Linked DNA regions of Homo sapiens: all the other regions are linked to region 4. The links come from fine-mapping of genetic effects on gene expression. A gene starts in region 4. Each other region holds a variant in brackets. All regions are shown on one strand. Distances are from middle to middle. Region 1 overlaps TRAM2 (translocation associated membrane protein 2). Region 2 overlaps TRAM2 (translocation associated membrane protein 2). Region 3 has its middle 35 kb from the start of TRAM2-AS1. Region 4 holds the start of TRAM2 (translocation associated membrane protein 2). Region 5 overlaps TRAM2 (translocation associated membrane protein 2). Region 6 overlaps EFHC1 (EF-hand domain containing 1).

Region 1 (5,074 bases), 35 kb after region 4:
GAGATCACACATCTAACATTTAAAAAACTCATATTTTCACTTTCCGGCCTCAGTTTGCTTAGTTTAATGATAGGCGGAGGTTGACATCCAGGGTCAAGGCCTGTCTTTATGTGCCCCTACACAAATACCCAGAGGAATTTGAAGGCTTCCTGTGAGAATTGGCCTGCAGCCCTGCTGACGGGCCTGGTTTATGGCCCCCGGAGATGGCTTCACCCTGCTCCATCGCTGTGTGAACTCATGGTTCATTTTCTTAGCAGGCTCTAATCCACGTGCCTAGCTCTTCAGTCAAAATGTGGGGGTCAACATGCTGATGTTTGAAACTTTCAAGGTGGTGGAGAATAATTTGAAATGGTTGCAGCAGGTCACTGTCTGCCAACTCTGGCTTTCTCTAAGAGCAAACAAGCAAATGAAGGCAAATATACCTGGGTCCTGCCTGGTCCAGCTACCCTGAGTATGTGGAGACCTTGAATAATCCTTTTATTTCCCTGAATACCAGGAAATGCCAGAAGTTCCTTGGGGATGATTCTCCCTGGCACCCACTCTTGTTGCTTGCTGAAGATTAGTGACAGACAGGATGTCGCAGACACATCTATACTGATTAGAATGACCCTCCTCTCTTTTTGCTTTCTGTCTTACGGAGCGAAAACATCTTTAAAAACTACAGCTGAAATGACACTGTGCTACACCGGTGAGGGGTTTCTTTTCTGTAGTCAAGTCTAAAATATTACCTAATCTGAACTCTCCAAAAATAACTCACAACCTAAAATTTTTCACTCCATAATCCTTTCTTTTTTATGTTATTATTTTTAATGTATCAATGATACTGCATCAGAACAGGTGGCTTTTGGCCAAAAGTAAAAACATTTTGTTCTGACCAATGTGTGTTTTACTCATATCCAAACACAACCAGTAATATGAACTCTGCCCCATGATGCAGGAGAAATAAATATTAAGAATGTCACTATTCTGGAAAATTATTTTGCCTGAGCATTTAAAATTTTTTATGTAGTTTTTAGCTTCCATAAGGAATGGTTTATGAGTATGCTATGCTATCCAGATAAGGGGAAAAGCTACTTGGTGGGGGCAGGTGGGTGTGAGTGAGAGTGAAGTATATAATCAAGTGGTAAGTATTAGAAATACCTAGTCAGTGCTTTTTTTTAGGGGAGGATGAGAATATATATATTAAGGCTCTCAAAGAAGTAATACATTTACTTCAGCAAATTCGTATGTTTTATATAAGGCTATCTATAAAGCACGTAGAAGGCCAAGTTCAAGCTATACCAGCATAAATTGCATAAATACACAGTCTTCTTAAAGTTATAATTAACTTGTGGATATAAAGGCAGTGGGGAAGGGCTTTCCCTAGGCCACCCTCTGTTTTTCAGTACCCGATTAATTTCCCAAATTGGGGATGTATATTATGGCAAGTTCAAGCTTTATTCTCTTTTTTAAAAAGCCCAACTTCAAAGATTTTTTAAACCCTTTATTGTGACTCTTTCTACATTCCTCTGTATCCCAATATAAAGTTTAGACTTTTAAATCAATGACTGTAACAAACCAAGTAATATAATTTTATTGTGGCTATTCAAATTTCGAGTTTTTTTCATAAATACACAATGTCACTTTTAATCTAAAACTGCTATCAAAACTGTTAATAGTGAGTCTATTCAACATCGTGATCACAGGCTTGTAGAGAATCTGTTGTGTGCGTGTTTGTTTAGCTTTGCCTGATTTTTGTATCAAGGCAGTTTTTCAGGTGAAAAACCAGAATCTCTAGGCGTTGCTAAAAGCCACACAGAAAGGTACTGTCATAACTCTGCCCCCTGTGATTCAGGCGCTCAGCCCTCACAGACAGCCTCTGGCCCTTCAAAACGGAGATTTTCAGAAAGCACAAGTGAAAAGCATCTTTGTTTCAGCTGTATCTGCCTTTTATCGAGCAGTGGAGGGGCTGCAAACCCACGTCCATCACACCCCGACCACATACCTGGCGCATGCAGGTGATCAGTGGGCTTGGGACATAAACACTCCAGGAAAAAAGGCTAAAAGACTATTTTTTTTAAAAAAAAAAAAAACCCAAAAATCTCTTCCCCACCAATTGGGCGTAACTTTCCAAGGTTTTCTTGTCTGCCTGAAATTTTCCTATTCACTTCCTCCGCAGAAAGATGCAAAATCAATCTGGGGAAAGCCTTAGTGAAGACCCTTTGGCTTCCAAAAACAGGCCGAGCTGGGAGAAGAAGGGAAGTTTTAGGTACCTAATTTCCCAGCCTCAGCAGGACCTGTCACTTGGCTTTACCCTGTGTTTCTCAGGAAGAAAAAATGAGGGTCCTCACTGTCAGTCGTGGGACATATGTGTCTCTGTGTTTTGTCCTTTAGGTGGGAGGTGTGGTGTCCGTGGGACAGAAGTCATTAAGAGCAGAGCTGCTCCTGTAAAATAAGGCCTTCTGTACCCTGTCTGCCCCCGGGGGCTGGTCTGCCCACACAGCCCCTTCCAAGTGCCAATGCATGGATGTGTCTGCCAAAAAAAAAAAAAA[C/AC]AGAATAAACTGAACCAAAGGATTTAATACTTTAAAAGAGAAGCCATGAAACTGCTTTCATCACAGTTCTTCTCTTTTATCTTTGGTGACCAGCTAACAACTTGCAGTGAAAGGAGAACCTATCTGGGCATCTGGAAGCCTAGGTGTACCCAGTGCCTGTGGCTGGCAGGTGGTGGATTAACCCGAGAGGCCTTATTTTCTTGCTCTGTCAGACATAGGTGATACCCAGACCTTATCTTCACAAAGTGAAGAAGCAACAATATATTTTAAACTTCTGGAAAGACCTCTTAGAAAGTTTGTCAGTGTAAGGTTGCGTTTTGGGCATTGGAAAGTAAGTAGAATCAGGTAAAGTTTACCTTTTCGAGCTGAGGGTGAGAAGGACCTTTAAGGACATTCGTTCTGAGCTGCTCCTTTGGCTTTATCCTTCCCGTGCTTATCTGTGAAATGGGGACATGATTAGTACCTATCTTGTAGGGTCATTGTGGGGATGACATGAGATAGATTTATGTGAAGCCCTTGGACTCATGCATGGCACCAAATAAGCACTCGATAACATTAACTGTTGTTGTCGTTATTAATAGATGAGTAAACTGGGGTCTAGAGAGGTGAAATGTCCTGCCCAAGGTCACCCAGCTGGCCCACAGCAGACTTGGGACTGGAATCCACATCCACTATGCTTAGCTGGAAGCAGCTATTTCACCAGCATCCTTGGTCTAGTTGCAGCCAAGAGCTCAGGTTCATGTGCCCCTAATACAGCATGGCATGTGAAACAGTTTTGGTTTGTTATGGCTACACAAGCATGCTCAAGGCCTTTGCCTTTGTGTTTGATGCCCTGTTTTAGTTAAAAATTTAATGAAACTTTCTCTCTTTCTCACTCTCTCTTTCTCTCTGTGTATATGTGTGTGTGTGATGTGACCCTTCCTACATAATTCAGTGTTCTCCTTTTACATTAGTGTATTAGCACGTTGTCACTTTTAACCTTTTACCCACTGAGCTTGGCATTTAAAATGCTATTAAACTCAATAATGTTTCCTATAAACAGCCTTAGAGGGATGAGAAATAATTGGAATGACATTTTTAATAGGCTCCTGGTTCTCAGCCCTGTGTGCTACAGGAACTCAGCTGGTGCTTGCGGAGAGGGACTTGTTAGTGGTTTCATCCCTAGTCTGAGGTCGGGAGAGGGTCATGGAGTGAAGACTTGGGGTGCTAAAGGACCTTTTAAGGCACAGAAGAAGGCTGAAGAAGTAAGTCTGCTCTTGACTAGTGCTTTTTGCTTTTTTAATGGATGGATGTGGTCAATCTAGAAGCTGATCACTCCTTCAGGTGGCTGCAGAAAAGCTTGGAGCCAAATTTCTGGCCACCTTTAGCCAATGAGTAGGACTTCCTGGAATGCATTTTTGTGGATCAGCCTCATTCCTTGCTTCTTTTCTTTGCCTAAAATGCATATTTTTTGTGTTCTTTCCTGCTTCCATTTTACATTACCATTCTATTCTATGTGCAGTATTGTGTGCCTCCTAAGTTTGTTTTTGGGACAAGGTTTTTAAAAAATCAAGTTGAATGTTGCCTTTTCTGCTTGTATAGTTGTGAGGTCTCGGGAGGCTACTTTATCTCTCTGTGCCCCAAATTTGGCTTTTTCATCTATAAACCAGGGAAACTGACACCATCTTGTTGAGATATGGTAATGTGGGAGCAAGCATGGCTGTTTACAGAGAAAGTTGCACTTTTTAGAATGGTTTCTGCTGCTACTACCAGGGGGGCTAGGGATGGAAAAATACTGGGATCTAGTATTTTTGTCATGATTATGGCCGTAGATCCTGTTCTCTCAGAATCATGTTCAGAAAACATGTTAAGCATTCATCTGTAGTCACTAAATATTATAGCTGCTTACAGTATGAGTTTGTCAAATAGGAATTTATGAGAAACCTACTATTCACCCAGCTCTGGGACAGACCGAGAGAGAGAAGACATACAGAGAAGAATAATCGTGGACAGATGACAGGATGAGGGTCAGATAGCTGAGCACAGCACCGACTCTCTCCTGCTTAGTCACTGTGTTCATTTAAGCATTTGCTGAGTGCCGCTCTGTTCTGGGGCAGTTTGAAGCCATCCATGGATGTGCACCTCAAACAAGGCAAGTCAGATCATCAAGGCAGGTCAGATCCCCACGCTCCTACAGCTTATGTTTCCCCAAGGAAGAGACAGTTTAAAAATAAAGATAAATGCTTTAGAGCTGTACACTTAAAATGGGTGATTTTTTTTTTTTGTTGTGTAAATTATACCTGAATACAGTTGTTAAAAAAGAAAAAAAATCTTGGCCCTCATGGTGCTGACGTTCAGGTTTTCCCTGATACGTTTGATCCTTATTATTTGTGGATTTTGTTTTTGCAAATTCGCTTACTTGCTGAGATTTATTTGTAACCCCCAAATCAGCTTCTTTGGTCATTCACAGAGATGTGCAGAGCTGCAAACACTTTTGGGTTGCCCAACACTCACATTCCCAGTTGAGGCCAAACAAGGCGACACTCTGCCTCCAGTTCCGGCTC
Region 2 (5,074 bases), 24 kb after region 4:
GAGGCTGAGGTAGGAGGATCATTTGAGGCTGGGAGGTTGAGGCTGTGGTGAGCTGTGGTTGCACCCCACTGCACTCCAGCCTGGCCCACAGAGCAAGACCCTCTGTTAAAAAAAAAAAAAAAAAAGGATTGACTCTAAGTGGAAATGTAACTTCTTACTTCTAGACATTAACTACACAAGGCACATGGATGAAATGGCCTTTGGTGAAATGGTTGTTGAAATGGTGAAAATTTGAAAAATTTAAACCCCAACACAGTAGCCCATTGCTGCCCCATTGAGAGGCTGTGGAAATAAGTTACCCAGTCAGCTTTTGGGTTTGGGTGAGATCTGTTCACTTTGGTTTTCTTTCTTTCTTTTTTTTTTTTTTTTTTTGAGATGGGGTCTCACTCTGTTGCCCAGGCTGGAGTGCAGTGACATGATATCTGCTCACTGCAACCTCTGCCTCCTGGATTCAAGCGATTCTCTTGCCTCAGCCACCCGAGTAGCTGGGATTACAGACACGCACCACCACGCCTAATTTTGTATTTTTAGTAGAGACAGGTTTTCACCATGTTGGCCAGGCTGGTCTCGAACTCCTGACCTCAGGTGATCCATCTGCCTCTACTTCCCAAAGTGCTGGGATTAGAGGTGGGAGTCACCGCGCCTGGCCCACTTTGGTTTTCAAAACCAAAGTGGGATGCCCTGCCTCCGCATCCCTTCCCAGGGGTGCAGTAAGCAAACAGGCGGTGGGGACAGGGCTGGGTGGTAACATTGAGGGGTTCTGTGAAGTTCTAGGACTTGATTGCCTGGGAGAGCCTCTTGCTCAGGGCTGGTAGGCTGGGGCAGATGGTGTGCTGGGGCGGATGGTGTGCTCAGGGCTGGCAGGTTGGGGTGTCTTCCTGCTGTCCCATGGAAGATGGAGCTGTTGCTGCTGGTGGCTTATCAGCACGTATTTGTTAAGCTTGATTTATGCAAAGGGTAGGGGCAGGAGAACCCAGAAAATGATAAATGACAAAGCAATGATAAAAAACAAGAGGAAGAATGACTAATTGTTATTTATTGAATACCTGTGATGTGCTAGGCCTTGTGCTACATTTGACCTTCTAATCCCACTAGTCCCCTCCATAGTCCTCTTTATGGATTCTATCTCTGTCTACACCAAGCAACTGAACAACTCCATTTCAGAGTTAGTGAGGGCAGAATTGGGATTTTGACACAGGTCTTTCTGAATCCAAAATCTGGGCTCTTAACTATTGTGCTCTACTATCTCTCAACAAAGAGGTACAGGCAGTGAGTGCTTCAGGTGTGAGGAGGAAGCAGCCAAGAGGAGTGATGGTAGAATGGGGAGGAGGAAGGAGGAGGTGAGGCTGGAGCAGGCTCTCAAAGGAAAGCCAAGGCAGATGAACAAATGGAAGGCAGAGCAGATGGCTGGAGTGCAGGCAAGAAAGGACATTCAGAGAATCAAAGAAAGCGGCTACTACACATGCTGCTACACAAGGGTTCCTGGGCCAGATTGCCCTGGGAAATGCTAGGCTGTTTCTTTACTGTTTCTTTATTGCAGGACTTGTCAGAGCCTTCATATAGTATTAATGAGTTACATATTTCTCTACCAAATACATTTGTTGATCTTGGAGAGTATTTAATGGAATAATATCCTTAATATATCCTTTAGGACATCCAGGACTATCATATTAGTTTGGAAAGTTGTGATAATCAAATGTGGAGAGGCAGGGAGGATTAGGAATGCCAGATTAAAGAGTTAGACATTATCCTTTAAGCAGCAGAAGGCAATGGAGGGGCTGTGGTGTGTGCGTGTATGTTTGTGTGTATATGCCTGGCTATTCTAGCTATGGATAGTGGGAGGGGAGGAAGGGGTTTTGAGTCTTGAGGCTGAGGATCCAGTTAGAAGTCTCTCCTACAGGCTGGTGGCAAATGAGAATATGAAGCTCTTAGCAGCATTGGGAGTAGAAATGATGGATTTAATAAAATAGTAAAGGAAAAAGCCAACAAGGGGCTATAAGGAAAGGTGGGGAGTCTTTGACTGCAGCCTGGGACATAGGCAAGTATAGAGCTTTCTCCTGGGCACCAGGTTTGGCATGTTGAACGGGAGTTAATCATGCACTATGTAGGTAAAGATGCAGCCTCCCACCTCCCATCCTGGGGAGAAAGATTTCAGCAGGAAAAGTAGATCTGAGTGTC[G/A]CCGGAATAGAAGTGGCTGCTACAGCAGAGATTTCCAAGAAAGCAAGAAGAGCTGAGGCTTGCACTGGGAGCCTGGAAGTGAAGCCGTGTCACAGAAGCATGGGGAAGAATCCGTGGATACAAAGGGACTTCAGAGAACACCCTTAAAACATGAGAACTCTGAGGCCCAGTGAGGTGGATGGGAGCAGCTGGAAGCAGCCCGTCGGGTTTGTGGCTGAGCTGTCAGGGAACAGGTCTCTTGCCTCCTCACTGCACTTTTCTCCCTTCTGCTTCCTCTTAGTAATATATGTACAGCCATTTGAGCTTTACCTATTTGCATGGGCTTCAGTAGAGCTGCAGGTGGCCTTCCTAGCAGGTGTGGCCACCAAGTACCCAACAGATTTCAGTCTGTTCTTGTCTTCGTTGCCTCCTCGGGGTAGTGAAAGGGCTGGGGAGCCTGTTGGTCCTGTCCCAGGGCTGTCCTCTCTGCATCCGTGCCCCCTGGGCTTTGCATGGGGGAGGAGCCTGGAATCTCGCTCTCTTTAAGGCTGGAAGCCAGGATGGCTGCCTGAGACTGCTGGCTATCTGTGCCCTCTCCTCTTGCCAGGGCTCAGTCTGGGGCAGAATGTGGCCCAGGGCCTGCTTGTCAGCACGTGGCTAGGGTTTCCGTGTTAACGTTCCCAAATTGGGATCTCAGAAGATCAAGTGTCCGTGTTGTCTGATCACGCTGAGCCTTCTCGAGCGGCCAGCTGCAAACCTTTCAAAGGGCTGTGTGTAATTGGCTTGGGAGATGCTGTGGGGGACTGAGAAGGGGACAAAGAAGTCAGTTTTTAAAAGGAAAAAAATAAATGAACATAACAGTCTTGGGCCAGTTGGGTGGGGCATGGTGCTTGGGCACATTGAAACCCCTTCCTCTTCCCTTCCTATTTTTCCACTTCCAGAGGCCCCTTTGGCTAGCGCCGTACTGACCCCTGCAGACCCCCTCTGTGTAAATACAGCCTCTGTCTCCCACCCACTTCTTCATTATGCATTCCTTTAATCTGACCCATCTCCAGGTTGCCAGCTGGCAGAGACTCAGCAGATTCCAAACCCCAGCTGGTGCCAGAGTGTTTACACGGGCCAGGGAAGCTTGGCAGACAACCTGCCCCCAAGCTACTCAGCTGTAGGAAAAGGTAGAAAGACTCCTGGAGATAAGTGGCCCGTTTGTTTGCAGACTTTCTCTCCTCCCTCATTCACCCTCCCCTGCATGCCCACCCTCACTCCAGTTGCTGCTCTATCCTGAAAACGTTAGAAAGAATCCCTTTGTGAAAGGGAGGTAAATGGCTAGGGACTAGCAGCGTAATCCCTACATCCAAGCAACCCTGTGTGGCACTCTGAGCACATAAAGGTAAAAGATCCTTTGCCTTCCGGGCTGAAACAGATCAGATATTAATTAGGAGACATTATTGGTTAGTGTAGAGCCAGTCCCCATTCATAACGGATATGTTTTTCCAAAATAATAAAGCTATGTGATCGAGTGTTCATGAAGCCAGGACTCATATTTGTCACTGCAGCCTGAGGCCAGTGGTGTCCTCAAAATCCTATATTCACCTCCTCCTGCCTCAGTAAAGGCCCCCTTGAAAAACTCAGGCAGGAAACTGTTCGTCCACCACAGTGGTTTATCTTGATCTGAGTTTGTGAGAAGCCAGTCCCAGGGTGTCATGCCTAAAGAAAACCATTTCTGAAGTGGGTTATCAACACTGTTGGTCCTTTGGAAATTAGATGGCCCATAAAGAGTGGCGATTTGTCTGCCTCCCATGCGTTTCATGAGGGGTAGTACCAGGATGTGTGTGGAGGATAATTTTGCTGGTTTAAAGTGTCCTATTCGGTTGGGCATGGTGGCACACTCCTGTAATCCCAGCACTTTGGGAGGCCAAGGCAGGTGGGAGGCCAAGGCAGGTGGATCTCTTGAGGCCAGGAGTTCAAGAACAGCCTGGCCAACATGATGAAACCCCATCTCTACTAAAAGTACAAAAATTAGCCGGGTGTGGTGGTGCATTCCTGTAATCCTAGCTATTCGGGAGGCTGAGGCAGGAGAATCACGTGAGCCTGGGAGGCAGAGGCTGCAGTGAACTAAGATCTTGCCACTGCACTCCAGTCTGGATGACGGGAGTGAAACCCTGTCGCAAAAAAAATAAAAATAAAAAATAAAAATAGTGTCCCATTGCCAGCAGTTACGTTGATGAGGTTAATTATTATCATATGGTGTTAGTATTCTTTTATTTGAGTAGCATATCTCCATCAGTCAGAGTCCCAACAGGAAACAGGTGGGGTAATTGAGGAATGGTTATGTAGGCACTATTAACAAGGGCGTGGACTGGCTCAGGGGAAACAGATAAGGAACAGTAAAGCATTCTAAGGCTTGCGAACGTGGGGAGCTATCCCTAAGCTTGAAGGGGCTGAGGATAGCATGGATCTAGAACTAAGAAGGAAGGGAGAGAGGAAATACCATTGAGAGCTGTGGTTGAAGGGGAGGGGCTGGAGTTTTGGTGGAGGGTTGCAGTGACTGCCAGAACTGTCCAGCAGGAAAGGAGCCAGGTGATGAATACCCCTTTCATGCTCTCTCATGTTCTGCAGATTCCATCGGAAGCCCACTGAAGTACTCCATAAAGGTGAAGCTGTCTGTTCTGGGACACAGGGTAGGATGGAGCATTGTGCAGCCCAGTAGAACTTACAGATGCTATTCTGCCTTCTGTTTGACTCCTACCTCATATATGACAACAGGCAATCAAAGGGTGGCAAAGCTAAACTGATGTCCCTGAAATACTACCATCTCTGAGAATAGGACTTTTGGACAGACGTTTCCTGATTGTAATAAGCCAAATAGTGCAACACATCTAACTTTAAGCTACTCTTGCCCTGATTTCTGGTGAGATTT
Region 3 (5,074 bases), 36 kb before region 4:
ACTCCTGACCTCAAGTGATCTGCCCACCTCGGCCTCCCAAAGTGCTGGGATTACAGGCATGAGCCACCATGCCCAGCATCCAGTACATTCTTAAATATATGGATGAATAGACTGGAGTAAAAAAAAATGGAGGTATATTTTTAGTGTAGTAATCTGACCAATTTGTCCAGGCAGAAAATGTATAATGAGGAGTTATGGGAAGTAAATTCAGGAAATAAGGTTATCTTAGATTTTAGAAACTCTTGAACATTCAGGTTAAGAGATTGATCTTAGCTGGCTCGGTGGATCATGCCTGTAATCCCAGCACTTTGGGAGGCCGAGGTGGGCGGATCACGAGGTCAGGAGTTCGAGACCAGCCTGGCCAAAATGCTGAAACCCCATCTCTACTAAAAATACAAAAATTAGCCAGGCATGGTGGCACACGCCTGTAATCCTAGCTACTCAGGAGGATGAGGAAGGAGAATTGCTTGAACCCGGGAGGTGGAGGTTGCAGTGAGTTGAGATCACGCCACTGCACTCCAGCCTGGGTGAAAGAGTGAGACTCCAACTCAGAAAAGAAAAAAAAAAAAAAGGAAAGAGAGATTGATCTTGATCCTGTGAGCAGTGAAAAGCTATTGAATGTTTCCTTTTATTATTATTATTATTATACTTTAAGTTTTAGGGTACACTTGCACAATGTGCAGGTTAGTTACATATGTATACATGTGCCATGCTGGTGTGCTGCACCCATTAACTCGTCATTTAGCATTAGGTATATCTCCTAAAGCTATCCCTCCCCCCTGCCCCCACCCCACAACAGTCCCCAGAGTATGATGTTCCCCTTCCTGTGTCCATGTGTTCAATCCATGAAATGACATGATTAAAATGTTTGCTTAAGAATATTAGTTTGTCAGTAGAATGCTTGATAGAGAAAATTAATAAGAGATTGCAGGAGGGAGATGACACTTGAAACTTCACTTTCCCGGGTGTGAGGAAAAATTTTGAGAATATAGCTGATAATTGTGACACTGACGGAGCTTTGCAAGCTTCCTAATTGGGAGACCAAGTGTTATTCTTATTTCTATCCCTTGCAACCAATACAATGGCTTGCATTTCACTCGTGCTCTGTAGTAGTCACTAGGTGACTAAATGAGGTACATAAAAAAGGACAGATGCACAGACTTTGAAAAGGAAGACTTAGTTAAGAGTCGACTGGCTGCCTCTGGAAGGTTGTCAAGTAGAAAATGCTTCTATTGCTAGAAATAAAGGAAATAGGAACAGGATCCAATTTGGGAAAATGGTAAGTCTACAAATCCATATTTTACGGTGTATCTTTTTTCCAAAAGGGACAAACCAAAAGCAATTCATTCTCATAATGTCCATAAGCCTGATAAACAATTCATAATATTACCCGTCCTTCTCACCTTTAATGGCTGGAGGAAAGTTGCCTGATGAATGAGAGAATCACTCAGTCACAAAACCGGGAAGGACTATCCTAAGAACAGAAGTCTAAACCCCTTCTGGCAGGATTATCCAAGGCTAAGAACACACAGTCTCTATAATTGCACTAAAAAGCAAATCCTGTCTTTGAATAAGGGCATCATGACAATCTGGATGTATTATTCGCTCTTCAACTTTTCATCTAGGTTGAAGGAGGTGAAACTAATTGCCTGTCATCTAGGTAAACAGCAATAGTGAAAGGAAATAAAAACCATGCTGCTCTTAATAGAATCCTCAGGTTGGTTGTTTCCAAAGAATGCTTACTTGGGTAAATAAGTGAAATGTGGCACAAATGGTTAGATGACACCAAAATGAAGGGGCTCCAGTGAAGCCTAGTGATATGTGTAGTTCAACTTGGGGTTAAGTGAATAGTAATTGCCCTCCATACAATTTTAATTAAGGATATTTTTAAGGGCATAGAGATGTTGACATTCACACATACTCTACCTGGGGTCCACAGAGGTTGTGTGCCAGCTGTGAACCATATGTAGCCCACACAGACTGCCTGCCAGAACTCCTTTCCCCCACAAATGCACCCACAGGTCACCCTCCTGTCATTGAGACTGGCTGTGTAATGCCTGAGGAAAGCGCCATGGTTATTCATTCATACACAAATATTTATAGGGTGCCTACTTCCTGTATGACGTTGCGCTAAATATTCTGGAGATAGGAAAGGATAAGAAATACCAATATGAGTAAAGCATTGCCAGAGCCCAAAAACAGCTTACAATCTACTCTGGCAGACAAAGTGCATCACGGGAGAAGGAAAACAGTGTAAAATTTTAATGAAACCTTTTAAGAAGTATCCCAAGATACTATACTACTACTTAACAGGATATGGAAAAATCCAGAGGTGATCTGAGTTTGTAAGACAAAGACAGAGCTCACTCTTTGTTGGAAGAAAGCTCTTATGAAGGAGGAGAGAGCTGGGCTGGATTATTTTGCTATTATCTAAACATGCCTTGAGGCTAAGCAAAAAGATGCCAAATGGTCACCAAGAGATAAAACAATTAAACAACAGACTGCCTGGCTTGTACAACCCAACATCCGGTCTGAACTCTTTTTCTCTGAATGCCCCAGTTGTTCTGATCTTGTATAACCTCAGCCTACCATTGTGTCCTTTACAGTTTTAGGGCTGTAAATTTACTGAATTTACTGTTTGAGTGCTGGTGTCGGCTGGGCAAGATGGCTCACGCCTGTAATCCTAATACTGTGGGAGGCCAAGGCAAGAGGATCACTTGAGCTCAGGAGTTCAAAACCAACCTGGGCAACATAGCGAGATCTCATCTCTATTTAAATAATATTACATATTTTTTTTAATTGAGGACTGGTAGGGACTTTTAGTTCATCATCATGAAGGATTAGCCAAATCCCTGGATAATTAATCAGCAAATGCAAGCCATTTTACCTTAGAATTCTGGATTGTCAAATACATGAGGCAGGATCCAGCAGACCAACAGAACATGCTAGACCTGATAGGTGACCTCACGGCTAAGACTCAGAGATCAGATAGGAGGTCAAAGGCTGCCAGTTCCTCATCTGTGCAGAGC[C/T]CTGGTAGGCAGGAAATATACTAGGGTAGGATACAGGGAGTGTTCTCACTCCTTCCTTCCTGTAAGTGAAGAAAGACAATTTGGGGCACAGAACCATGTAAAGTTGCTCATTTTCTATTCCAATCCAGAAACTATGAGAAATTTAAAATCTAATACAAACTTTCTAACATCATGGTTGTTATAGAACCTAGGGGAGCAATTGAGGCTTTTCTACTTAAAGCATAGGAGAGTTGGCTGGGTGCAGTGGTTCCCACCTGTAATCCCAGCACTTTGGGAGGCCAAGGCAGGTGGATCACCTAAGGACAGGAGTTCAAAACCAGCCTGGCCAACATGGTGAAACCCCATCTCTACTAAAAATACAAAAATTAGCCAGACATGCTGGCAGGCTCCTGTAATACCAGCTACTCAGGAGGCTGAGGCAAGAGAATCTTTTGAACCCAGGAGATGAAGGTTGCAGTGAGCCGAGGTTGCAATGAGCCAAGTTCACGTCATTGCAGCCCAACCTGGGCAACAACAGTGAGACACCATCCCAAAAGAAAAAAAAAAGCATAGGAGAGTTGTTTTAGCCTAGTGAGAAACGGCTCCAGAAAGCCATCTAGATGGCGTGGTCTGAAATGGGCAGAGTAACGGAGGAATTTCAGATGCAAGAGAAAAATCCTCAAAGACAGGCACCACCAGGCTTCTTGTTTAAGCCTTCTCTGCTTGTGACATCTTCCTGTGCCCACTGTTTGCTGCTCAAACCTCTCTAATTGCACATCACTTTATAATGCAGTGAGTCATAAGGGCAGAGTCTTCATGGGCTAATCACCTCTTGGAGGCCCCATCTCTTAATACTGTTACAATGGCAATTAAGTTTGCAACACAGAAACTTCTGGGGGACACATTCACACCACAGCATTCACTTATCCGTGTGAATCCCTCCTTAGACAGTGAGTTTACAGAGGGGCAGAGACTGTTTTAATCACCTTTGTATTCTCAGTGCCTACTTCATCCCTGACACATCATAAAGATTAAATACAAGTAATCAAATGAATGAGTCATTGAGAGCAACCATTGGCAATGTTGTGGCCTACACATGTGCCTCTCAAATGAGAATTTGCAGAGTCCTAGAGCTCCAGAGGGGTCGCTTGGGGACCACCATGGGAATGTGGGGGAACACGTTCCCGAGTGCCCTTCTCCTCTTGTAACTTTCAGATCTAAGTGGCTCTGCTTTTATCTGTTTTATATATTAGGGGTATATCATGTCTAGTTTTGTTTGAAAACTGTTCAAAAAATACGATATGTAGAAGGAAGAACCTGTCCTGCTATAATACTATGCCATGTGGGATCATTTGGTACAATATCAGCAGGACATTGTTACAGGACAAAGAGGAGTCAGGAGTGTCCAAGCATGGTCACAACCTCAGGACTAGCAGTCAGTCCAGAGGCCAGCGGAGAGATGACCTGCAGGACAAGGAGAAAGGTGGCCAAAGGGGACTTCTATGTCACCTCTCAGGACCACCCACCTTAACATAGCAGCAGATAAGCCCCACTTCCTTCTCTTGGTCTTCCCACTCTCAAACTATATTCCAGCAACTCTTCTGCCAATTGCAGCATGATCTTTCTTGCTTCCGGATTCCCTCTGCCTGTCAGGCCAGTCCTTCAAGTCTCCACTGAAATTTCCCTGCCTAACATTCTATCTTCCTCAACCTAGACAACGATGGGCGTCTTTTATTCCCTGTATTTATTTAGTGTGCTTATCACAATTGCAATAATCTATTTAATGTCTCCTCCCTTCCCCCAGCTTTATTGCAAGTTCTGATAAGAGCAGGATGTTTATCACTACAGTCCCAACACCCAGCAGTGTCAGGCAGCTAGGGGATGCTGAATAAATTCTTAACACATGTGGCTGGCAACCTCTAGGATGACTCCCAGTGATCCCCATTCTCTAGTCTGCACAGCCTTGTGTAATCTTCTTACCTTAAGTAACTTGCTTCTAAATTTTAGAATATGATGATGTTGAGGGTATGCCAGTTGCATTATTGGGTTGCAAAAGATTGTAACTT
Region 4 (5,074 bases):
TAAAACAGTTGTTTCATAAGATCTTAATGGAGCTGAAAATTTCCTATCACATAGTGATGTCGTAGCCACTGTAACATTGTAGCGCAATGCATTAACCACGTGTTTCTGGTGATGCTGGTGTAAACAAACCTACTGTGCTGCCCCATAATATAGTTTAGTATAAATGTGTAGCAAAAGGCTGGGTGCAGTGGCCTGTAATCTCAGCACTTTGGGAGGCCAAGACGGGTGGATCACTGAAGATCAGGAGTTCAACACTAGCCTGGCCAACATGGTGAAACCCTGTCTCTACTAAAAATACAAAAATTAGCAGGGGGTGGAGGGCACCTGTAATCTCAGCTACTCAGGAGGCTGAGGCAGGAGAATTGCTTGAACCTGGAAGGAGGAGGTTCCAGTGAGCCGAGATGGCGTCACTGCACTCCAGCTTGGGCAACAGAGAATCCGTCTCAAAAAATGGCGGATCACTTGCGGTCAGGAGTTCGAGACCAGCCTGGTCAACATGGTGAAACCCCCACCTCTACTAAAAAATACGAAAATTAGCCAGGTGTGGTGGCACATACCTGTAGTTCCAGCTACAGGCTGAAGCATGAGAATTGCTTGAAGCCAGGAGGCAGAGGTTGCAGTGAGTCCAGATCTCGCCACTGCACTCCTGCCTGGGCAACAGAGTTAAGACTCTGTCTCAAAATAATAATAATAGCAGTGGGGGTAACTTAAATTCAACCATCTAAACCTATAAAGAAACCAATTGTATAAAGTTCAACCTCATAGGTGTGGCCGCACGTTGCAAATTTGAACACATCTTCACAGGTGGAAAGTCGAGGTGCTTCAGAGTTCTTGATCTTTCTGTTCCTCACAAGACGAAGGTTCAACTTTGAGAAAGGTCAGCCTTGAAGTTAAATGAGGTTTAGTCCAATCTAGGCATTACTTTGTCATTTCCTTGAGAGTCAGATAAGGGAATTACAGACCCAAGACTGTATTTTAAGTAAGGTGGAGTGCAGATTGAGGAAGTAAAATTTCTCTAGGAACTCCATCCTGTCTCAATTACATTCCACCGCGTGCCACTTTTAAAAAACCATATTTATTTAGAAGTGAAATAACTGTGGACCTAATAAAAAATGGAATAGGAATTAGTTTTTTTTGTTCATTACGTATTTCTGCACATCTAGAAAGTAACTGACTGCTTCATTACTGGTAGGATTAAATCCAATATTTGCGAATATAATTTATTAAGAACACCTTTTGTCCTTCCAGGAGTACTTTTAAGACTTAATATTAAATAGAAACTTTCAGTGAGAAAGTTCCTTCCTTTTTTGCTTCTTCTGTGTTTATTCTTCCACTTCTTCTGATTAATATGTAAGGTAGACTTTCGGTGAAATGTGTGTAGCTAATTAATGGTGGCATGAGGGTCCCAAAAATTACTGGGCAAAACTGCAATCATCCACCCTCTCCCCGCATTGGAGCGAAAGCTCCCCTAGGGCAGGGTCTTTCGGTTTGTTGATCTACCTGAACTGTGCCTAGCCCACTGCAAGTTCTCGATAAATACTTGAGTAATCTCCATTCACTGATCGTCCGTGCAGGGCGCTGTGGCCAGCCAGAAGGCCGGTTCGCGGCTTCCCTGCTTCCGCCGCACCCGCGCCGCCCTCAGCCCCCGGGGCCACAGCCCGCAACCCCGGGAGCATCCGGCTGCCCGGCCACCCCCGGGGCGCTCGCTGCCTCCGGGGCCTGCCCTTCCCGCGGAGGAAGGAGCGGAGCGAGGAGTGGGAAAGCTGGGCCCACTTCCTGTCCGGGCAGGCCTGGGCGCCCGCCTCCTCCGCGGCCTGCTTTCTCCACCGCGAGCGGCTGAGCCTCGGGCCCCGAGAATGCGGCCGGGCGCGGCGCTGGCGCGGGACGAGGAGGAGCCGAGCCCCGCTCGCCGCCCCCGTACGCCTCCGCCCCGGTAGCCCGCGCGTGCCCAGCGGCTAGAGGGTTAAGCCCGCGGGGGGCGGGGCCAGGCGCGCCGAGTGCGGGCCGCGGGCTGGGCGGGGGCTGGGCGGGGGCTGCGGCCGGGGGCGGTTACGGGCGGCCGGGGGCGGGCGGAGGAAGGGGGCGGGCCCCGAAGTTGTTCCGCGCTGGGCGGGCGAGCGGCTGTGGGAGAGCGGGCGGCGGGCCGGCGGGCGGACCGGGCCGGTGCTGGAGAAGTTTGCGCTGCGGTTCGTGAGCGCAGGGTGCGGGCCCCGCCGGCCGCTGCGCGCCCGCTGCCATGGCTTTCCGCAGGAGGACGAAAAGTTACCCGCTCTTCAGCCAGGAGTTCGTCATCCACAACCATGCGGACATCGGCTTCTGCCTGGTGCTCTGCGTCCTCATCGGGCTTATGTTCGAGGTGAGAGCCTGGGGAGGAGGGAGCTGGAGGGACAGTGCCCCCTGTCGTGCACCGCCCGGCACACCCCTGCAGGTCAGCGGGCCCTCCTCTGATCGGAGGCTCCTGGCTGCCGTGTACGTTATCTGCACCCCGGCTTTGTGCACTGTACCCCTCCGGCCTGTACCCCGGCCAGCCCAGACAGCACCCCCAGCTCCGCGCCGTGCCAGCCATGCCATGCTCTGCCGCCCCCTTGGGCACTCATCGTATCCTGCAGCTCTGTCTGCAGCCCTGAAACCCCAGCCTGGCCTCGAACCAACCGCCGCGCTGCCACCATGGCTTGACGCGTGGGGTTCCCTTTCTGGCGTCCAGGAGCCAAGCCCAGAGACTCCCAGACCCGCAGTCATTGCACAACCCCCTCTTGCCCCAAGGGGTGGCCACTAGCTCTTCTGGGCTTTTCCAGTGGGAGAGACCCAGAACCTTTTCCACTTCCTATGTGATTTTCTGGGTGTTTTGCATCTCAGCTCTGGAACGTGCTCGGATGTTCACGTGTGGCCCTGGCCCCATCCCAGCAGTGGCCTTCTGCTCTCGTCTCGCTCCCACTTTTTTGCTGTGCTCTAGAAGGCCAATTTTTGGATATCCTTTACCACTCCGTGAACTGTCCCTTTAGATCCATCTGCGGCGACCCAGAGCTTCACCCCCTTTACAGAGACAAGAAGAGAGACAGGGATACCCTCCACTTTTTGGGGAAAGTTGATTCTCTTATAGTGTAGGAGTGGGGGGCAGAGGATGGGGATCCCACCCCCAACAGCAATGTCCTGGTGTCGGCCTCCCAGGCAGGGAGTTGTAGAAAGCCAGCAAGGGGTCAGAATTCACAAGACTGATGGGAAGGATTCCCTACTCTTGCAGAGCAAGAAAAATGTGATATTCAAAAGTGGGAAGAACTGGAGGAAGCTTGGCATGGGTTTGTTGCGGTATATCTTGTCTCAGAAGTGAGATATGTGAGCGACATTCCCCTCACTCTCACCGTGGTCTCCTCTGGTTCCTGAGACTCCTTGTCCTCCCTTCTGCGTCAGCTTGCTTATTGCATTCTCACGGTTGGGTTAGGAAGCTGTGATCATTTACAAACTTCCTTGGAGATGGAGGATGGCTTGCCTGGCTAAATTTCCTTCCCTGTCCCTCTGTCTCGGGTTCCCTGTATCTCTACGAATGACAAGGGCCCTAATTGGCTGGCGAAGCTGCCCTCAAGCTGGGAACGTTCTTGTGGTGGCCAAGTCAGGGTTGGATGAATGAATGTGTCCGTGGCTGAGCTTTAGGGTCTGTAGGAAATAAACGGTGGTGCTAGGACTGGGGTCTCCACTCCACTTTTTGATAGTGCTCCTTTAGTTCAGTCCCTCTCTCCTTCCTCTCCCTCTCACAGCTCTCTCTAGTGGTATATTGGGTCGGGCTTGCTCCACCTTGTTCTGGGTTCTCCCCTGGAAGTGTGTGGTGTCACACAGAGTCATATCCGTGTGTCTCAGTCCCTGTTCTGTGACTAGTCTGACTGAAAACTGACTGCAGCCTCAGTTTCCCCATCATTAAAGACGTTCATAAAACTGGTCTTCGTCACAGGGTGGTTGTAAGGTTTAACTGAGATCATATCAGCAACAAAAGCCATAACATCTCCTACCAACATGAAAAAGTCTCTTGCGCCTGGAGCCCTGTGATTATTTATCATAATAATAGCTTAACAAAATAACAGAATTTCCTTTGCCCAGCGCATTCTCTGCTGTCTGTTTGCTGTCCTCCATTCTAAGAGGCCTCCAAGTGCGTGTCCCCAGCCTTGGAGGGTGTGGCTGGAAAGATACACGTGACAGCTGTAAACCTCAAAGCCACAGGCTGCAGCGACGAAGTTTCTCGCATAGCCTGTGGCTCTCTCCGTCATATTTCTAGCATTTGTTAGGGTTTGTGGCCCTCCCTGTTTTATCTTTGCTCAGAAAGGGCTGCCAGCATTTGAGTTTGGTACCTACCTCCTTCCCTGGGTCTCTAGTCTTATGGAAAGTCCTGTGCATTAAACCTGCCACTCTAAAAGTTGAAAGGTGTTAAGAGCTGTTACTTCCAGTATCTGGTGAAAGAGAAAGGCCCAAGACGAGAAAAACAACAAACAAAACTACTCTTCCTCCCCCTTAGGCTTGTATTGGGGAGTGTAGCAAGGCCCCTGGTTGAAATGCCTACAGGCCCCCTTTTCCTGCCAAGCCCATCACTTCTTCCCATAGCACCTTGAACCTACAGGACCTACAGGGCAGGTGTCTCCTTCTTTTGGAGGTACTTTGTGAGATCATCAGTCTGTGCTTCTCTGGGAGAAAGAGGGCTTTGCCCTAAGCCTCCAGTAAGAAGGTCTTGTGTTCTTCTGTGCTGGGCACATGGTGGGGGCCTCACTGTCTTTACCCACCGACTAACTAACTCTCCACAGAGATAAGTATTCCTGGGGGTGGGGAGGGGGAGTTTGGAACTGCTGCCTCTATCAAATGAGAGCAGAAGCGTCCTGGATACTGTAGGTACCACAGAGAAACAAATGTGGGCATCTTCACACTCAGAGTAAAGCCTGGGGAGACGCCTCATAACCAAGCACAGGACTGGCTGGATATCACTTAGGATCTTCTGGGTTTCTCTCTGGAAGTGTGTGGTGTGCATGTGTGGGTATGTAGGGATGCATATGGTGCGATGGTAGGTGCAACTGGGGACTCACCACCCTTTTCCTAG
Region 5 (5,074 bases), 67 kb after region 4:
AAGCAGTGTATTTGAGAGAGCTCACAACTGTCACCGCCACCACACACGCCACCACCCGAGAGCCTCATCCACTTTTATTCCTCAATCGGCACGTGACCCAGGGAGGAGAGAGTGGTAGTGAGAAGAGATTAGAAATGAGGCCATGTAAGTTCGAAGTGAGATCATTTCCTTCTAATCCAGGTGACTGTGACTACAGTGGTATAGATGTATCCGATAAAAGGACTTATCAGTCAGGTTATTGTGCTCATGGAGGCCCAAGTTTGTGGGATTAGGGCCGTGGACTATACCCGAAAGGCATGCTGATAGGTCACAGGGCGTTTAGTGACTCAAAGGTGGGTGGATCAGCCCTCACTTGGAAATACAACTAAAGATCCTAATAGACAATAACCTAGAATGCTTCTTACTAAACCCTGTTGGCCTCATTCTGAGCACTGTAAAACCTCTGCCTTTAATCCCAGTGTGAACATCTGAGGTTCTCAGCCTTCTCATCAAAGCCACCAGCTCAGCTGATTTTCTGATTTACTGAAGCAACCTAGCCTGAAGTTATTGGACCAGAAGGCTTGTGGCCCAACTCGGATTTCAGCTGTGCTACTGAAAAACTATCTTGGCTGGGCGCAATGGTGCACGCCTGTAATCACAGCACTTTGGGAGGTCGAGGCAAGTGAGGTCAGGAGTTTGAGACCAGCCTGGTCAACATAGTGAAACCCCGTCTCTGCTAAAAGTACAAAAAATAGCCGGGTGTGGTGTTGCGTGCTTGTAATCCCAGCTACTCAGGAGGACTGAGGCGGGAGAATCGCTTGAACCTGCAAGGCAGAGGTTGCAGTGAGCTGAGATCGTGCCATTGCACTCCAGCCTGGGCAACAAGAGCAAAACTCCATATCAAAAAAACAAAACAAAACTATCTTATTTCAGGAGATCCTTCCTATCTGTTTTTTCATTTTCCCATTTCTAAAATGAAGTCATCCTAATCTAATCTGCTCTGCCTTCTCTGAGTGACAAATAAGAGCCCTTTCTTCAGAAGAGAGAAATTGCCCAAAGCATTCATCATTCATTCATTCAACCAACTGGTGTGTATTGCACTCCTGTAGTTTCAGCTGACTCTTGCTTGTGGTAGATTATTTCTTCCCATGCTTTGTACTCTTGGATTATAAATTCATCTTTAGCAAGGTTTTATCTGTGGAGCATCCTTGGATGAGGGTATGTCCCCAGGGTATCACTGGCCCACCACACTATTAATTCTAATTTCTTACCTTGGCGGCTTTTGGATCACACAGGTAGTATATTTCACCTCCAAACTCAGAGTGAACCTGAGGTTGCAGATTTTTAGAATAAATGATTTTGTTTTCACCTTGGGTATGGGCTGAGCAGACATCTTCATTTCCCTGTGTTGGTCAGCAAACACTTTCTAGTCTTTTCCTTTCTCTGAGATTGTGGCCTTTCAGAGGTCCTGGTCTTATACAAGGTCTTGGGTTCCACCTCCCAAGGCACCATCTTCTGTTCTCACATGGGCACAAAAACCCTGGCCCATAACTAGTGCCTTTTGGGCTGCTACAGTGTCACTTTACTGCTCTGCCTTTTAGCCTCCCTCTCCCTTTGGGTCCCAGGGGGTTTCCCTTTCTTACTGTGAGCTCAGCTCTTTGCATTTAAAAGAATATTCATTAGATTTCACCCAGCATTTCTAGATGTTTTGTGATGGAAGGATTTTCATGTTGCCATCCCCACCCCATATAAGGTGCTGGACTACATGTTAGAATTCTAAAGATAGGCAAGAAAAGGCCCTAGTGTGAAGGGACTTGCAAGAGTAATGGAAACAACTGACAGTAATGACACAGTGTGGTAGGTGTCAGAGTCCAGCTGCATGGTGAGGCCTATGGGGTCCTGCCATGTTTTTTATTCAGCAGGCTGTGAAAAGCCAAAGTAGGCTTTTCATTTTTCCAGCGAGTGGTGATTCTAGAGTTCATTTGCTTATTCATTATGGAGGCATTTCCTGAGCGCCTGCATGCCAGGCACAGGACTAGACACTGGCACATAAACTATCCCATTCATTTCCAACAATAACTCTGTGAGGGTGGGTATTTTTATTTTGTTTTGCAGATGAGCCAGCTGTGGCTTAGGGAAACTAATTAGCTTGCTCAGAGGAGCAAGACTAATTCGCTTGTCAGACTCATCTTCAGATATGGGTCGTTGGACCTCAGAGCGTGGCCCTTCCTACTCCAGCATGACTCTTCCACAGTAAAGAAACCAGCCAAGCGCCAGGGGTCCCACACAGAGAAGTTCTCTGTTTTCACATTTCCTGTTCCTTCCTCTTTCTGTCAGGTGGGGACTGGATGCATCCCTGACCCCTGGACCGGTCCCAGGGCCCCAGCAGGTCTCACGTCCACATCTCTAAATGGTCTCTCTTCTTGCCCACTGCAGGAAGGATACTTAACAAACCCAAGAAGCCTCTGGGAAGACTACCCGCATGTGCACCTCCCGTGAGT[A/GTA]TTCTGTTGACTCAGCCCCAGGGAGGAGCGACCGGGCCCACTGCCTTCCTGTCCCAGCGGAGTGTGGCCAGAACACCACAGGCCCAGCTGGCCTGACGAGCAGATCATGCCCTGAGCCTATTGTGGATGGTAGACTTGTCTGGAAGCCACTTCTTCTCAGCATGCTTGACCAGAGAATCCCCAGATGAAATTCCATCTGTGCTGGCTCCCATCACAGAGGTCCCTCAACTGCATGAGACAGATTCAGAAGCAGAACATCTCTCTCCATAATGCCCTCTGGGTTTCTACCTTCTTGGCGACCCCCTGACATCCACAGAGTGTCTTCCCTTCTGGCCTGCCATGGCTGGTGGTCTGTCAGAGCCAGTGTCCTCTGCCTCATATAGTGCTGCCAAGAGGGCAGTGTACCCCAAGGGCAATACCTGGGGCCATCTCCCTCAGGAGGCCACCCTTTGCCTTTCCCGAGATCTTTGTTTTTTGTCTTTTTTCTGAGATGGAGATTTGCTCTTGTTGCCCAGGGTGGAGTGCAATGGCATGATTTCAGCTCACTGCAACCTCCACCTCCTGGGTTTAAGCGATTCTCCTGCCTCAGCCTCCCAAGTAGCTTGGATTACAGACATGTGCCACCACGCCCAGCTAATTTTTGTATTTTTAGTAGAGATGGGATTTCACCATGTTGGCCAGGCTGGTCTCAAACTCCTGACTTCAGGTGATCCACCTGCCTCAGCCTCCCAAAGTGCTGGGGTTACAGGCGTGAGCCACCACGCCTGGCTGCCTTTCCCGAGATCTTTAAGAGCAATAATAGCAAAGGATGTAGGGCTGAGTTAGAACCTTCCCTTGCTACTTAGAGCTGTTTGTTGTCTCAGTGTATCTGTTGGTCCCTATCTCCAACAGTGCTCTGTAATCAGCTCCCTCCTCAAGGCTGAAGGATTCCTCCTCCTCTGCACTATTTTAATCATGTTTGTTTCTTTCTGTGGACTTTCCGTGTCCTTTAAGTGGTTTTGTATGTGGAACAAGGGCACAGGCCAATGGAGAAGCCAGGGTCCCAGGCTCAGGGTGCGGCGGTCACTGGCCTAACTCCCTTGCTCCTGGACCAGCTCCTCACAGGCAGAGTCTCAGCCCATGCTTTTCCCTCCTGTGCTTGGCCAGCACCTGCAGGGACACTTTTCTCTATCCTGCCCGTGTGACTTGCCCCCTTGTCTCCAGCTTCCAGGTGAAGTTTTTCTACCTATGCCAGCTGGCCTACTGGCTGCACGCACTTCCTGAGCTATACTTCCAGAAGGTACGGAAGGTGAGTGCTCACTTCTCTCCCTTCTTGGAGGCCATTCATTGACCACTCCCCTCCTGCTATTCCCAGGGGTACCTCCCTTCCTTTTCTCCAGAAGCATGGAGTGTTGGGTGGTGATAGGAATATGTTGGGGATTGAGCAACATGCTGAGTCATCTCTTGGAGAAGTGTCATGTAGTTGACCACCAGTGTCAGTCTCTTGCCTGCCTCTTCCACCAGACCTGTGGCTTTGGAGGAAACCTAACTCTCATCTTATAGATGTCAAAGGAGAGGTCTTTGCCATTTCCATAGTCTTTTTTTATTTTTACTTTTTATAGTTTCCTTCTGAATTATTTCCAAGAGCCCTCTTCTCCAGTCCCTGTCTCTTATTTCTCAATCCAAACCTCACCCTCTGACACTAGACCCAAGGCTGCTGGAATTTGGGAATGGACCTGAATGCCCTTGAATTTCAGCAGCCTGGTGCAGTGGGACTGTGGGACTCGTGGGACATGGGACTGTGTGTTAAAGCAGCCCAGAGGAGCCTGGCCCTCTCTCATCCCCCTGCACTTTTCCCCCTTCCCTGAATCTTCAGTTAGGGAATTAGCAAATTTACCATCTGCTTCTCTTGTTTCCAGGAGGAAATTCCCCGCCAGCTCCAGTATATTTGCCTGTACCTGGTGCATATAGCTGGAGCATACCTCTTAAAGTGAGTGAGACCATGGAGCCAGCCAGATTTCCTTGCCCTTTTATGTCCATGCATCTGTCCACACACTCATATAATTATCAGGCATTTGTTGACATCCTCTGTGTGCCTAGCACTATGCTAAGACTTGGCAATACAAAGATGGTAATGGAAGATTCTTTATCTTCAGTGGTTCATTCTCATTCTGAAGAGACAGTTATAGACATAAGTAAGGACAGTTGAGAGTGATGAACACCATAACACAGTATGTATCATCTGCTCTGCAACCCAGAAGAAGACCCTCAACAGAGACAGCCAGGAAGACTTCCAGTGGATGTCGGCCTTTGAACCATGGCTTTGCAGCTTGAAGGCCTCCCAAAGCTGGGCTCTTACCTCACAGTGTCCAATGCAAACACTGCTAGAGCTCGTAGCCCTGGAATTCCCTTCCCTTTGGTTTATAATGACATGGAGAGTAGGTCTCTCTTGGTTGTTCTAGAGGCAGAAAGAATTGCTATAATATTAGTTCTCGAAGAGCCTCTTTTATGAAAAGAATCCTTTTGATGTTAATAAGCTGTGTCATTGATAATTTGGGCTTTTGCTGAGTGTTATCCATGCAGTAAAAGCACCCCACACTTTCTCTAGGCTGGCA
Region 6 (5,074 bases), 78 kb after region 4:
CCGTGGTTGCTTTTGATTACCCTTAGGAAGTGAGACAGTGTTTTTGAAAATATGTATTTCCCCCATTTCTCCCTCTCCTTCCCTGACACTTCTCTGGGCTGCACAGCAGAAACGTTGGTAAAAGGGCAGTTTGGTTTCAACACAGCAGACCTGATATGGGATCCCTTAGCCACTTTAGTCAAACAGCCCTGACAGAGTCTATAATTGAGTTCAGGCCCCCCACCTTGCCTAATAACTGCAAATCGCATGTTCAGCCAGCAGCCTCCTAAGCCCACCTTCCTCCCCCATTAGAGAACACCCATCCTAGGTGCTCTCCAGGCTGTGTCATTGGCAGGGCTTCACATGCAGGAGGCCTCTCTCAGGTGAGTCCAGGTTAAACTGTTGAGTTGTGGCTTCAACAGATATGTATGGCATGCTGGGATGTGCCAGGTGCCTGCGTTGTGCCAGTTGCTGGAGAGGTAGTGTGAGCAGAGCAGCTGAAATCTTGCCATCAAGCAACCCTCATTCTCATGCCTGTAGGTTTCCATTGCTCTGTCCCAGGACACTTGCGTGCCAGAGACGCCACAACTTCATGTCCCTGTCTCTTGCAAGCTCCCCGTGCTGCCAGTACTTCATGCCTTGGATGTGGTCCCACCAGCCCAGTGGCCGGGGTCAGCTTAGGCTCTGCTTCCCAGTGGACGGGTGTGCTAAGGGTTTATTTTATGTAAAAAAAAAAAAAAAAACAAAAAAAAACCCTGAGACCATGAGTGGGGCTGGCATCTTGCCAGCCTGGGCTTCAGGGATGTTTGGGGGGGGTGGTTAGAGGGTAGTTGTAGGGTACTTTGTCACCCCCCTCCCCCTGCCACCCTCCCTGGCACGTTTATTTCACAGCAGAGCCAAGTCTGTGGCAGGTTGACACAGACTGTGTTGCCAGAGCTGAAATAATTCCACTTCATCCTATGAGCGTGTTGGGCTAGCTTGTTCTAATTTTGGCCACTTTGGCTGTTTTCTTCAGTTTTATGCATTCTCTCCTGCCCCAAAGTGCCAAGCCATTTGTGAAGGCTCTGCCAGACACCTCCAAGCTTGAGAGCTCAGCACCATGCACCAAGAGCAGGAGAAAAGACGTAAACCTACCCCAGCAACTGTGGCCTCTCGACAGCCCTGGCTAACTAACTTACATTTGTGGGGAAGCCAACAGACACAGCAGGAGGAGAGGGAGGTGGCGCTGGTGGACCAAGGATCTGTGCTACCCGCTCCCCTCCTTGGAGGTGCAGTGATGATGGGAGTTATTTTTACCATCCGGGCGCTGATAGCTGCACTATTAATAAATTGCATGTGTTCCTTTTGAAGGTAGGGGATGGTTCTGGGTGAGAGGGGAGCAGGCTGAGCCGGCGGGGGATCTGCTGTCCTCCCTTTTGAGTCAGTTCTAATCCCATGTGTGTCTGGGCCACCAGACCGAAATGGTTGCTGAGAAACTTGTCTGTTCATGTCCCAAGGCATAACTTCCCAACATTTAAGAAACCCCAATAGACACCTCTGCCCTGGCCACGTTCACAGATCCTTCTCTTGACCGGAAACCCTGGGACCCTAAGAACCCCTGAAGCTTGGGGTGGGTGTGTGCTTCTGGGGTCTCTTTTGGGACCTCCTTTGTCAGTACCCCTTCTTTTTTCTAAGCAGCTAATAAGAGGTTGGGTGAAAGAGTGCATCTCCTCCCAGGATTCCACAACAAAATTCTTATCTTCCATGGATGCTTTAATTGGAAGTGGGTTGCCGACCCCCTTGTGCCTAGAAAAGGCCTTCGCTTGGGTTTCCTTTGTATGCTTCAGCCTTCCTAGTTGGTTTTTCTAGGCCTGGTGTGAGAGGTAGGGAAGTCTGCACATAACTAATTCTTTTGCTTAAGGGCCTATGGCACAAGTGCACAAACTTCAATTCTTGATGTTCTAAGCTCTCTCCTCTAACAGAGGGAGTGCTGAAAGCTTTTGAGTCAAGACAATGGAGTGCTCTTCCTCCCTCACTCTGCCTTCCGAGCTTATGGTTCCTTTTCTCAGGAGAGGATTTTCAGGATTATTGGAGGATTAGGTCATTGTCAGATGACTGGAAAACCTAAATA[G/A]GATCTCTCTCCAGCTCAAGGTTGTCCCAGTGAGGAAGACTTTACCAACTTCTCACTCTACCCCACTACTCACATGAGTGTTAGCTCCACCTTGCAAAGGCTGAAGACCAGTTCTCCCCAGTGAAAGCTGCCTCATTCTTTTATGGAGTTCCCTGGAGTGGCAGAGCTATAAAGACGAGCATTGGGATTTGCAGTCTCCATGTAGCCTTTCGTGCTTGGCAACCCCTGTAGACTTTTTGTCCCAAGCAGATTGCGTGCGTGCGCCTGTGTGTGAGAATAAGTGCCTTACTTTGCTGTGTGGTTTTCAACTTGTACTCCGTGGCCAGCCCCCAGTTGCCAGGGCTCGACGGCAGCCAAGGACACCATACCTCAGTATAGTTATATATAAAAGGGACACGGATTGTGACAGTTTCACCCCATTTGTTTCTAACCCCGCTGCCCAGGATTAGGGTCTGTGGTGTGTTCTGTTTTGTTTTTGGTTTCTCCCTTGTGTCAGTTCTCTTCTGGCCCAGCTGGGTGGCTGTGGAAGTCTGTGAGGTGGCCCAACCACAAGCATACCTATTAAGAGAAGCCCAGAGCTTCCAGCCCCCACTTCGAAAACTCTCCTCTGGCCCCACATAGCAAACTCCTTCTCCGTTATTTTCCCCACCCCCAGATTTTTTTTAAAAGGCCCACTTGCCGTAACCTCTTTTGGTCTATTTTGCTTCCCATTCAGCCCAAAGTTTATATGATAAAGGTGTTTACTTTTACTTCCCAGTCTCCAAGTGCTAACACATAAACACATACATGTCTGACTGTTGCAGAACTGTTCGAGCTCCTAATTCAGTGTTACCTTGTTTTAGTCGCAGCAACCCTCTCCCCTACCCCTTGCCCGCCCACGTTTTTCTCACTCTTCCGGGTTGTGCAATAACTCTCCCAGCCAGTGGTCCTTTCCACAGCCTTTCTGTCCCTTAAAACACCTGCAACTGGGGGAGAAATGGGACCCATGGGAGGGGGAGTCGTCATCCCTTACACAAGAAATAGCCACTTTCCTTTTGTTGTCATTCTTGTGATCCTGGGTGGGTTTCTGTGGCACTCTTTTAGAACATGTAGCATCATCTTAGAGGTCTATTTTTAAAAAATGTGTTGAAGAGGAAAAAACCATTCTCACGATGGGGCTTAAGTCATTGTCCAGGAATAAGATTGGCGTGGTGCCCATGACATCACCGTCACTCTGCCTAAAAGCACTCTAGAGCTACTTGTTCACGTGGAGAGGAAGGATATTTTGCGAAGCAACAGCCGCAGGTGGAGAGCCCTGTTCACCTGATAGGGTCTAGCTGTGACAGTAAATATAATACCGCTGTTTCCTTGGGTACAGATTTGAGTGTTCATGTGATGAGACTGTAAACCTCATTTTTCGGTTCCTCTGTTTAAAAAAACATCTGAAGGATGAACTAAGGCTGCTGGTGCCCTGAGCAACTGATAATGCAAATGTGGACAAAGTGTCTGTTTTCTACTCTAGCCTGTTCATATGGACCAAATTTCAACAAGGAACTCAAGGAAAATTTGTACCTGCCGTATTTATGCTTTCATGTAAAAAAGGGTTGGGGGGAGGGGTGTCTTTTTGCTTTTGGTGAACTTTTTTTCAAAATCATTTTTCCACTGTTTCTGTCTGGTTTTAAAACAAATTACAGTTTTGTATGGATTTTTTAAATGTACATTTTGGAACAAATGATCAAATATTTTCTGAAATAACAATAAAAGGCAGAAAATTATCAGAATTGTCTCATAATTATTTCCTTGACGTGCTTTTATACAGTGATGCTTTTAACGTGGATGTTTACGTTTGCTTAAAGGAGTTTGCAATGAATTTTAGCCCTCATGTCTATTATTTTTCACTATATTAGTCATTTCTTATATATTTTGACCCGTATTTGTCCATTGTGATATGAATTAGGGAATTAAGGATGGAGAGTCAGTTATGTCAAGTGCTGGATAGCAATAAGCATCATTTTTATTTGACTCTTTAATAGTAAAGTGGAAAAGAGGTTTTCTTAACATGGGGTTTGTGGGTAGGAAGCTCCAGAAACAAGCACATCATCCTTGATGCCTACTATACTATGATGTTATTTAGCTTGGAGGAAATGGGGTTTCGTTTGTGTAAAGGCCAACAAATATGTTGGTGCTGACTAGAAGACATCCAAGTATTAGTAATAGTGGGGATTGCTGGTGTCACTTACATGGCTGCTGTTGGCTGTAGCTGCTTGCTGTGTTTACCAGAACCATCTTTCTTTGGAAAAAGATCTCAAAAGATGAGTGCAGTTACAGGTGGCAGTTAGTCAAGGACACCCATGGGGTGTGAGAAAGAGGAAATGTTTGCTTGAGGTGAAGGTGAGTGGTTCTGATGCATGGCAAGCTTCATTGTAGAGTTGGGTCCTGCTCTGCCATGAGAAGCTAGGTGAACTCAAGCAGTTAACCCTTCCGAGTCTTTTTGTGCATCTGTGTCAAAAGGGTTTCATGTTTTGTGGGGAGTCATGGTGAGAGATTTAGAGATACTGAATGCTAAGTTCATGGTACATATAAAGCACTCATATTGGCTTTTTAAAATGAACTTATGTGCCAGCAGGATACTCAGGAGTCACTTAACCAAGTGGATTCTCTGGACAACATTTAGAGACGTCTTCTCTACCTATGTGTCCCAAATACCCTCAAAGCCTATAGATATGGATTTGATACACCTTAATTGGATGGTATTTTCAAGGCCCCCTGATGGTGCAGACAAGGTACAGGCCCAGGTTTCTGAGTAGTGGCTAACTCACAGCCCATCTTTACCCGCAAGGCAGATTTTTATTAGTCCCAAAGCCGTAAGCACTATAAGCAGTCTTAGTCAAATGCTTCAGTTAGACCTGATAGCTTCAGCTACCAGTGCTAATCTTAATAATTCTCATTCTCTCTTTGTGTGTGTGTGTGTGTGGGTGTGTGTGTGTATTAGAATCTTTCAACTCC

The links. PIP is the estimated chance that this variant, and not a neighbour inherited with it, causes the effect. A credible set is the group of variants that fine-mapping cannot tell apart.
Region 1: its variant is the best candidate, but not a certain one, in a credible set for the expression of TRAM2 in naive CD4 T cells (Schmiedel 2018, PIP 0.66).
Region 2: its variant is the best candidate, but not a certain one, in a credible set for the expression of TRAM2 in fibroblasts (GTEx, PIP 0.82).
Region 3: its variant is the best candidate, but not a certain one, in a credible set for the expression of TRAM2 in blood mononuclear cells (TOPMed, PIP 0.60).
Region 5: its variant is the best candidate, but not a certain one, in a credible set for the expression of TRAM2 in esophagus muscle (GTEx, PIP 0.63).
Region 6: its variant is the best candidate, but not a certain one, in a credible set for the expression of TRAM2 in whole blood (TOPMed, PIP 0.63).

What each region holds. Positions count from the first base shown.
Region 1 is chr6:52,539,261-52,544,334 of GRCh38, reverse strand. All of the region lies in intron 1 of TRAM2 (translocation associated membrane protein 2), which reads left to right. Among named protein-coding and RNA genes, the nearest start is that of TRAM2, 35 kb to the left of the region's middle. The variant C/AC (reference allele first, on the strand shown) is at 2,532.
Region 2 is chr6:52,549,818-52,554,891 of GRCh38, reverse strand. All of the region lies in intron 1 of TRAM2 (translocation associated membrane protein 2), which reads left to right. Among named protein-coding and RNA genes, the nearest start is that of TRAM2, 25 kb to the left of the region's middle. RefSeq lists an enhancer at 2,506-2,675. The variant G/A (reference allele first, on the strand shown) is at 2,179.
Region 3 is chr6:52,609,921-52,614,994 of GRCh38, reverse strand. No RefSeq gene overlaps it. Among named protein-coding and RNA genes, the nearest start is that of TRAM2-AS1, 35 kb to the right of the region's middle. The variant C/T (reference allele first, on the strand shown) is at 3,030.
Region 4 is chr6:52,574,078-52,579,151 of GRCh38, reverse strand. TRAM2 (translocation associated membrane protein 2) reads left to right here and starts at 2,092. Exons shown (of 11, transcript NM_012288.4): 1 at 2,092-2,356. The coding sequence starts at 2,237. It overlaps TRAM2-AS1 (TRAM2 antisense RNA 1), which reads right to left and starts at 1,950. Exons shown (of 3, transcript NR_103446.1): 1 at 759-1,950. RefSeq lists silencers at 1,520-2,379, 4,237-4,286 and an enhancer at 4,637-4,686.
Region 5 is chr6:52,506,928-52,512,001 of GRCh38, reverse strand. It overlaps TRAM2 (translocation associated membrane protein 2), which reads left to right. Exons shown (of 11, transcript NM_012288.4): 5 at 2,416-2,474; 6 at 3,684-3,768; 7 at 4,379-4,449. Among named protein-coding and RNA genes, the nearest start is that of TRAM2, 68 kb to the left of the region's middle. The variant A/GTA (reference allele first, on the strand shown) is at 2,481.
Region 6 is chr6:52,496,177-52,501,250 of GRCh38, reverse strand. EFHC1 (EF-hand domain containing 1) reads right to left here. Exons shown (of 11, transcript NM_018100.4): 11 at 4,053-5,074. TRAM2 (translocation associated membrane protein 2) reads left to right here. Exons shown (of 11, transcript NM_012288.4): 11 at 1-3,843. Among named protein-coding and RNA genes, the nearest start is that of TRAM2, 78 kb to the left of the region's middle. RefSeq lists an enhancer at 2,103-2,152 and a silencer at 3,236-3,437. The variant G/A (reference allele first, on the strand shown) is at 2,090.